Linked DNA regions of Homo sapiens: region 1 is linked to region 2. The links come from fine-mapping of genetic effects on gene expression. A gene starts in region 2. The other region holds a variant in brackets. All regions are shown on one strand. Distances are from middle to middle.

Region 1 (4,401 bases), 21 kb after region 2:
ACACACATATTATATATATGTGTATATTGTACACACATATTATATATATGTGTATATTGTACACACATATTATATATGTGTATATTGTACACACATATTATATATATGTGTATATTGTACACACATATTATATATATGTGTATATTGTACACACATATATATGTGTATATTGTACACACATATATATGTGTATATTGTACACACATATATATGTGTATATTGTACACACATATATATGTGTATATTGTACACACATATTATATATATGTGTATATTGTACACACATATTATATATATGTGTATATTGTACACACATATTATATATAATATATATGTGTATATTGTACACATATATTATATATAATATATATGTGTATATTGTACACATATATTATATATAATATATATGTGTATATTGTACACATATATTATATAATATATATGTGTATATTGTATACATATATGTGTATAATATATGTGTATATTGTATACATATATGTGTATAATATATATTATGTATATTGTATACATATATATTATATGCATATATAAAGTATATATACATATAAAATAAGCAAAAATATATATTATATGTATATATATAAAGTAAGCAAACTTACTATATATAAAGTATATATATAAAGCAAACTATATAAAGTGTGTGTATATATATATTTATATATATATAAAGTAAGCAAAAAGTGGCTACAAAAGTATGTAATGTTAATAGGTAGCATATATTAAGTGCTTATCATGTGCCAAGCACTATTCTAAGAACCATGCAGGCATTAACTCATTTACTCTTCACACCAACCCCATTAGGAAAGAACTCTCACAGTTCCAATTTTACAGGCCCTCAGACAGGGTTGTGACTTACCCACATGCGCACTAGTGACTAAGCTCAGATAGCTGACTCGAGTGTTCCCACGTTCTTAAAAATCACATGATTCCACTTCTCAGTATAGGGTTATATTTATTTTAAAAACAAAATGGAGCGGGTGTGTTTTAAAATTCTGGAAGGTCTGGAATGAAGATATTAATTGGAAGATTATAGGATGTTGTTTTATTTTTTAAAAACCCTTTACATACACTGCTGCTTTCCATTTCAGTGAGATAAATTTACTATGAAATGTTAGAGTTCATTCTCCCAATTTTATGTAATACCCCTGCTCATGAAGAGGTTGATGAATGTCAGTCCTTTAGATGGAGGGTTGGGGGGCACTAGAGTCAATGTTGACAAAGGATCTGGAAGGATTATCTCTCAGCTTCTTTCGGTTTCAGTCTGTACAATTTAGGAACTCTCTTTAATAGTCTTCTTGAGTAGTTCAAATCATGTTTAGAATTTTCCATATGTTGAAGATATATTTTAAAATACAAAGGCCCGAGCTGCAGAATGGTCCCTGGTATCCTTTAAATTTAAAATTACTAAGTTTTTCTTTTCCTTGCTTGTTTTAAGAGAGAGAGAAAGAAGTGAATGTGGAAGTATTGGCAGAGTAGTTTTCATTTCTACCTTGGTCTCATTAAAATTGACATTTTTTAAGTCATTGCATTTCACTTAGAAACTGCTTCCAGACCAGTTTCTTCAGGGGGATGGGCTCCCAGAACCCTCTGCCTCTCTCTGAGTCCAGCTTCCCTATCTCCTGGTCCTAAGGACAGCTTTTTCTCTAAGTGCTCCTTCTTGGTGGCTGCCACAGAACACGGTTTTTTGCTGCTAGAATACCTCCAGTGGTGAGACTCAACCAGCAATCAGCAGTGCTCTAAAACCTCCAGAATGACAGCAATCACTGCCTGTGTGCCTAGCAGTGCCCACTCCCTATGTGGGAATGACCTCATGTGGCACTCA[CG/G]TCAGCCTATCAAGTAGGTGTGATAATCCGAGGTTTTTAAAGGATGAAACTAATATTCAGAGAGCCTTGACGACTCGCCCAAGGTCCCACGGACAGTGTTTAAATACAAATGTGGCTCCCAAATGCACATTTTCCTCTTAGCATGATTCTGACTCACAGTGATTTATCTAACTGAGTTGCTTTGCTTTCTTACTTTTTTATTTCTTTGGTTTTTTGGAAGTGGAGACAGTAAGGGGTGGGAGGTTTGAGGAAAGGTTTAAAAGTAAAATCTATTTTTGTACTTTGTGATCATTAAGGTATCTTGCTTTTTCCACATGGTGTATTAACTAAAGTTCAGCAATTAAAAAGACAGATAGGCCCCCCACCCTCCCCCGACACACACAGTCAATCTTATGGTTTACAGATGCTTGTATGAATTGTACTGGCTGGAAGATCATGTGATTTGACTTTGACACTCATTCCAGAGCCTGATCTGCTCTCTGCCCCTTCTACATGGTCATGGATGAAACAGAGAGACAACATTAGTAGAACAAAATATATGGTATTTATTAAACACATGTGACATAGGTTATAATATCAAAGTAGAGCATGCATGAACAGATGATTCATTCGTTTAACAAAAACACCAATTGATACTGAGAACACTAAATTATTAAATTTCCAAGACATATAAAATTCTCTTTAAGTTAAAGTGAGAAAGAAAAAAAAATCACTAGTTGAATAAATACAGTGATTTCAGCTGGTCCAATGAAAGCATAAGGCACAAATTAAACCAAGGGACTAGCGCATCAGAATGAAGCTTGTCTGGCCCACACAAGTCTCTCAGTGTGGCTCCCACGACCCTGCACAGATGCTTGGGACCAAGAGGAAAGAGCACCTGCAGGCCGGGAACCCTCCCTTCCAGGTTCAAGTTTGGCTGGGTGCCCATGCTTCTTGTGGACAGGCCTCTCTGTATCAGAGAAACGCTGCCTCTAATACTTTTATGGGTAAACAAAACCTTCATGCTCTATCAAACAATCCTGGCATGAATAACATGAAACTTCAAATTAATGTCCTTTTCCCTCCCAACCAAAGTCTAGCAAATAAAATACATTGTGAAGGAATCCTCCTGATAGGATTTCAGTGTCTACAAAGAAAACAAATGATGATGCAGTACGGCAGGGTATGCCGAGTGGGTGTCTGAAATGTGACCTTGTATATCCCTCTCTTACCTGCTCACTCTGCCTTCACTTTCCTTCCTGTCTTAGAAGTGGATCAGAGCCTCAGCGATTCCCATTCCGGCTTACACTGTGTGTAGGGGAAACAACAGTCACCCTTCCCAAAGGATTTGAAGCCACAGGGTTCCAGAGCTTTTGTCCATCTGTAAAAAGTGTATGCCTCTGAGTGCCTAAGTCAGAGTTTTCTTCATGGTTAACTCCAGGACTCTTGTGTATGGGGTGTAGTTCCTAGAAGGCATCACAATTTCACGAGTCCTGCCTGTTTGGCTGAGAAATGAGAAAATGCAGGTCAGGAAAATGAAACAAAACAAAACCCCCCATATGCTTCACATGGTAAGACAACTCTAGAAAATGGTGTTTAAGTGTTTAAAAATAAAAAGACAATAATGCAGCTTAATATTTCACTTAAATATTACAAACAGGCCCTGCAATGGACTTTACGTTTTCCCAAATTCATATTTTGAAATCCTAACCCCTAAGGTGATGTATTAGGAGGTGGGGACTTTGGGAGGTGATTAGGTCATGAGGGTGGAGCCCTCATGAATGGGATTAGTGGCCTTATGAGAGAGGCCCCAGGCCCAGCGTGGTGGCTCACGCCTGTAATCCCAGCACTTTGGAAGGCCGAGGCAGGGGGATCACCTGAAGTCGGGAGTTCGTGACCAGCCTGACCAACATGGAGAAACTCTGTCTCTACTAAAAATACAAAATTAGCTGGGCATGATGGCACATGCCTGTAATCCCAGCTACTCAGGAGGCTGAGGCAGAAGAACTGCTTGAACCCGGGAGGCAGAGGTTGCAGTAAGCCAAGTTCATGCCACTGCACTCCAGCCTGGGCAACAAGAGCTAAATTCCATCTCAAAAAAAAAAAGAGAGGCCCCAGAAATATTCATCATCATCCCTTCTGCTATGTGAGGACATAGCAAGAAGACACTATACATGAACCAGAAAGCAAGTCCTTGCCAAACACTGGATCTGCTGGCACCTTGGTCTTAGACATCCCAGCCTTCAGAACTGTGAGAAAAAAATTTCTGTTGTTTATAAGCTAACTAGTTTATGGTACTTTGTTATGGCAGCCAGAACAGACTACGACAGGTTAAAAATAAAAAAGTTATTTTTAACAACCTGTAAAGGTTGTACTAGGCATCCATGGTTCAGAAAAATATGAAACATGCATTCAAGGGACTTGTCACCTGGTGGGAAAGATATGTACATAAAAAATTTTCATGTACTGTGTTAGGAACTATAACAGAGACATAACAGCTGTGCTGGGCATTCTTCTTTTGCCATTCAGCCCTACTCTGCCCCTTCTCCACCCTACTCTGTGGCCCGGAAAAGTCAGC
Region 2 (4,401 bases):
AACTAGTGATGAAGTATCAAGTATCGGGTCAGAATTCTGGGCCTTATCTGTACCCACATCAACTTCTGCAATTGCTTTTTGCCTTAGCTTACAGTCTAAACTAACAGGGTTAAACAGTTCACTTTTTCTTCTAACTTCTTCACATTCTGCAATGGCAGCTTTCAGTTTGGCAAAAGAGTCAAAGATCTTTTTACCTTTGTCGGGCAATTTGCAAATGAATTTTCTGTCAAATGGAAAAGAATACTATTACATTACAGCCATTTTTTTAACTTGAGATATAACATTAAAAAGGCAAGGCATTATCTTCAAAGAAAGAAAAGCTGATTTTTAAGTCAAATATCTGATTTCTAACTGCCCCAAAACAAGAATAAAACAATTAAAATGGTCATTATCCAAATAGCCCAAAAAACAAGGGAATGCAGGAAGAATAGGGAATATATGCCTCATTTGTCTCAGCAAATTAGAATTTCAGCAAAAGTATTTTAAGCATATAATAATCACATAAGACATTCCAAGAACCAGCAGTCATTAAAGTGCAATCTCCAAAATTTGGGGATGGGGTGGAGTGTGGGGATGGGCCTATTAGGTCAAAACTACTTTCATAATAATACTAAGATATTATTTCCCTCTCATTTTCTCGCATGGGTACAGTGGAGTTTTCCAGAGGCTACATGGCATGTGATGACATCATTGTTCTAGAATAGAATGTGTGCTTGTGTATGCTTATGTTTTAAAGACTTCAGACGTATTTCTGATAAGTAAATACATTTCGCTAGATACAACACATAAAATAGCTCTTTGGGATGTCAATAATTCTTAAAGTATAACGGAGTCCTGAGACCAAAAAGTTAATTCACTGCTATACATTCAAAACCTATTCTCACAAGGTCAAAACACATGTCTTGATCCCAACCAATTATTTATTTGTCCCTTTTGCTGGATGACAGAGTTCCTTTTCTGATTCCCTTTTCTTTAACTATACAATAAATGGAAAGAAAAAATTACACCTTAAGTCCTCTGTTCTTTTTGACACTACATTCATCCCCACAATTTCAACTATTAACAACACTCTACAGCTGAAATTCCTGTTTTCTGTATTTTTCCAGGGTTCTCTCTTTCTTGAGCCTCATGACTACTTCTCCAGCTTTTAAGTGTTTGGTTTTCGATTAACCAAATGTCTGTCCTGCTCTCCTCTCAACTCTGCACACCCTAAGTAAAATCAACCTTGGATCTATTCCTCTCCCTGAATTTTCCTATTTTTGCTAGTGGTCTTCCATATAGATTGGAAACTTCAGCCATCTCTGTCAACTGCATTTAAATTAGTCCATGCTTAAAAGTTCTCCCAATCCCTTCCTAGCTCACTTTCTTACAAGTGTCTCGTGGGAAGTCTCTCTGAAAATATCCTTCTACTGTCTTCTGCTTTTTATTCCTTCAAACCATCTTTTGCAACAAGCTGCTGAACAAAGCTGCCTAAAAAACAAAATCACTTTTATTACGTGGCTCCCTTGCTAAAATCCGTTCAACCAGCCAGCTGAATGAGGGTCGAACTTTCCCGGCCTAATAAACCCCTCTTCATATCCCACTCTTCCCATTTCCTACGGTTCCTGTAAGCTTAGAATCCAGAGATGAAGCTGACAATCTGTTATGGGTTAGGGGTGCGGGCGACAAAAGGGTTTAGAAAGCAGACTCATGGAACCACCACAGTCCCCGGGTAAATAAAACCGACCAGGGGCTACTAACTCCCTGCAACGCCAGGTAGCCGTTCAATCCGAGCTATCCTCGCAGGCATACGTGCCTGGCCAGGAAGAGGCACGGCTCTGCCGCAGCAAGCCCTCCGTCCACTCGCCCGTAGGACTGAAGCGAATGTGACTGAGTCAAAGTCACCTTCCAGGGAAGGGAACAGAGTGCGGGAGGGGAGGGGAGCGCCCAGGGAGCTCGAGCTGAAGGAGCCTGGCGGAGACTCCGCGGGACCCCAGCTTACTCGTTGCGCAAAAGTCTCTCCTGGCGCTTCAACATTTCCCGCAGCTCCACCAAACTCCGCTGCGCCAAGTCCTCGGGAGCTTGGGGCTCGAAGCCGCGGGGCAGCGAGCACATTCTGCGCGGGCTGAGGCTGGCGCGGCGGCGGGCACTCGGCTTCCTCGGCAGGCCCCGCTACTAGCGCCGGATCCGCGGACGGCGGTGACTCCGGGGCACGAGCGGGAGTCGCCATTTTCCCGGAAGAACGGGGTCTTCTTCGAGCCGAATCGAGCTTTATTGAAATTCCGGAAACAAACACGGACTGGGAGAAGGGGGCGTCCGCAGGAGCGTTAAAGGGCGGAAGTTACGTCGGATGACGCCGGCTCCTTGGCTTGGCGCCCTTTCCCCTTGTGTGAGCATTCATGCGGTCATCAGCTGTTCGTCGGTTTATACAAAAAGTATTCAGCGCCAGCGTGACCTCACCAAGCACTATGTGTCAGTCAACAAATAGCAACGTCCTGTGTTATACTTGGGGTTTACAGAGTTGGCGGGGGGATGGGGGGAGGGAGAATCAAATTATGATATAATAGTAACGTTGGGATGGGCACCTGGGAAGATATCTCTGAGAAGTGGTTCAAGTCGAAACTTGAAAGATGAGCTGGCCATTAATAAGGTGGGAGAGAGTGCGGGACAGGATTTGGGAGACTCTGGCCTGTGCGTGGTGCCTCCGGCCTGTGCGTGGTGCCTCCTAGCTCAGCTTAGGGACGTCCTGAAATTGTTAAAGTTGGAAGGTTCCTCAGAATCAGCGATTTTTCTTGGGGCTCAATGCATTTGGAGAAGGACTTCATTTGTAGCACCGCCTCAAGCATTGTTAAGACATTTGGTGTTTCTGGCTTCTGCCTGCTAGGTGCTATGGCACTCCCAAGTCATTGCAACAATCCAAAATGTCTCCTCCAACATACATTTCCAAAGGCCCACAAGAGGTGATGAGGGAGTGGGAGCAGCTGTACAAACTCGTTGAGGACCTTTTCGAATTTTCTACTTTGCCTATAGAAAAACAGAGGCATGAAAACTGAAATAAATATTCCCAGGGCACAAAACCAGTAAGTGACAGCACCAGATTTCAAACTCAAAAGCCCAGCCCCTTTTCCAACACACCAATTTGAAAATCCCCTTCTTCACTTTAGGCCTATTTCCAAATGTGTAAAACTGTTGAAAAGACTTCCCTCCGCCCCCCCCCACCCCCGCCACCTCCCCAGCTGTTGAGAAGAAGGCAGCTTAATAGGTATTGGACACAGCTTTTACCTTCTCGTTATAGTTCAGCTACCAGAGGTGCATCCCAGTGGAAAGAGTAGGAAGACATGCAGTCACAGCAGATGTCACTTGGGAGGTTTGAACACCCCCATAACCCACCGCCCTCCCCCGATTTTTTGATATAGGAAATTGAAGTTGTCTCAATCCTGTGTAAGATGCTATATAAACACAAGCAGCTCTGTCCTAAAGAGACAGAAGATCTAGGTAAACTCCAAAGCTATTCCAGGGAGCACAATTGCAACCATTTATCTATCCCCCCAATCTGGTCCATTCTGATCAGATTCATTAATATATCAAAATAAGTTTTCTCTGTATAAGACTTGCTTTCAAGGACGTTAATAACGTGCTGCAGCATTGGCTGAATGAGAAATAGGTAAGGTCCTCGAGTCAGGTGGTTGTCTGTGGTACTGACAAAAAAAAAAAAAAAAGACTCCGTAAAATGTTGAAGAGATGTATTCTGTGCCAAATATGAGTGACCATGGCCCGTGACACAGCCCTCAGGAGATCCTGAGAACACGTGCCTAAGGTGGTTGGTGCACAGCTTGGTTTTATACATTTTAGGGAGACATGAGACATCAATCAAATACATTTAAGATAAACATTGGCTTAATCCACAAAGGTGGGACAACTCAAAGCAGAGCGGGTGTGGGGCAAGATGGGCTCCCAAGTTATAGGTAAATTTAAGTTTTTTTCTGATTGGTAATTGATTTAAAGGAATGTCTAGGTTAGCATAAGAACTTGTGGAGACCGAAATTTTATCATGCAGATGAAGCCTCCAGTTAGCAGGCTTCAGAGAAAGTAAGTTGTGTTTCTTATCAGACTCAAGGTATATGTGTTGATATTAAATGCTGTGTAGCTTTTCCTGGATTCTAAAAGAAAGAAGGGCATAATGAGGCATGTCTGACCTCAGCTTCCCATCATGGCCTAAGCCAGTCTTTTAGGTTAAATTTGGAGGACCCTGGACTACAGGAGGAAGTCCATTCAGACGGTTGAGGGCGGACCTTCAAATTTTATTTTTGGTTTACAGTGATAAGCACCCCGCAAGCCTCCCTCACCCCACCCCTGGACCCCAGCTGGAGGCCTTTATTTCTCCCACAGTAGTGAACTCCCCATGTGCTGATTGTAGGCCAC

What was found. PIP is the estimated chance that this variant, and not a neighbour inherited with it, causes the effect. A credible set is the group of variants that fine-mapping cannot tell apart.
Region 1: its variant is the best candidate, but not a certain one, in a credible set for the expression of POLR2M in whole blood (INTERVAL, PIP 0.61).

Annotation. Positions count from the first base shown.
Region 1 is chr15:57,683,329-57,687,729 of GRCh38, reverse strand. GCOM1 (GCOM1, MYZAP-POLR2M combined locus) reads right to left here. Exons shown (of 17, transcript NR_104371.3): 12 at 3,056-3,328. It overlaps MYZAP (myocardial zonula adherens protein), which reads right to left. Exons shown (of 13, transcript NM_001018100.5): 13 at 2,366-3,328. The coding sequence ends at 3,232. Among named protein-coding and RNA genes, the nearest start is that of POLR2M, 21 kb to the left of the region's middle. The variant CG/G (reference allele first, on the strand shown) is at 1,844.
Region 2 is chr15:57,704,536-57,708,936 of GRCh38, reverse strand. POLR2M (RNA polymerase II subunit M) reads right to left here and starts at 2,223. Exons shown (of 4, transcript NM_015532.5): 1 at 1,982-2,223; 2 at 1-223. The coding sequence starts at 2,094. It overlaps GCOM1 (GCOM1, MYZAP-POLR2M combined locus), which reads right to left. Exons shown (of 17, transcript NR_104371.3): 14 at 2,565-3,003; 15 at 1-223. RefSeq lists a silencer at 1,739-1,788 and an enhancer at 2,109-2,328.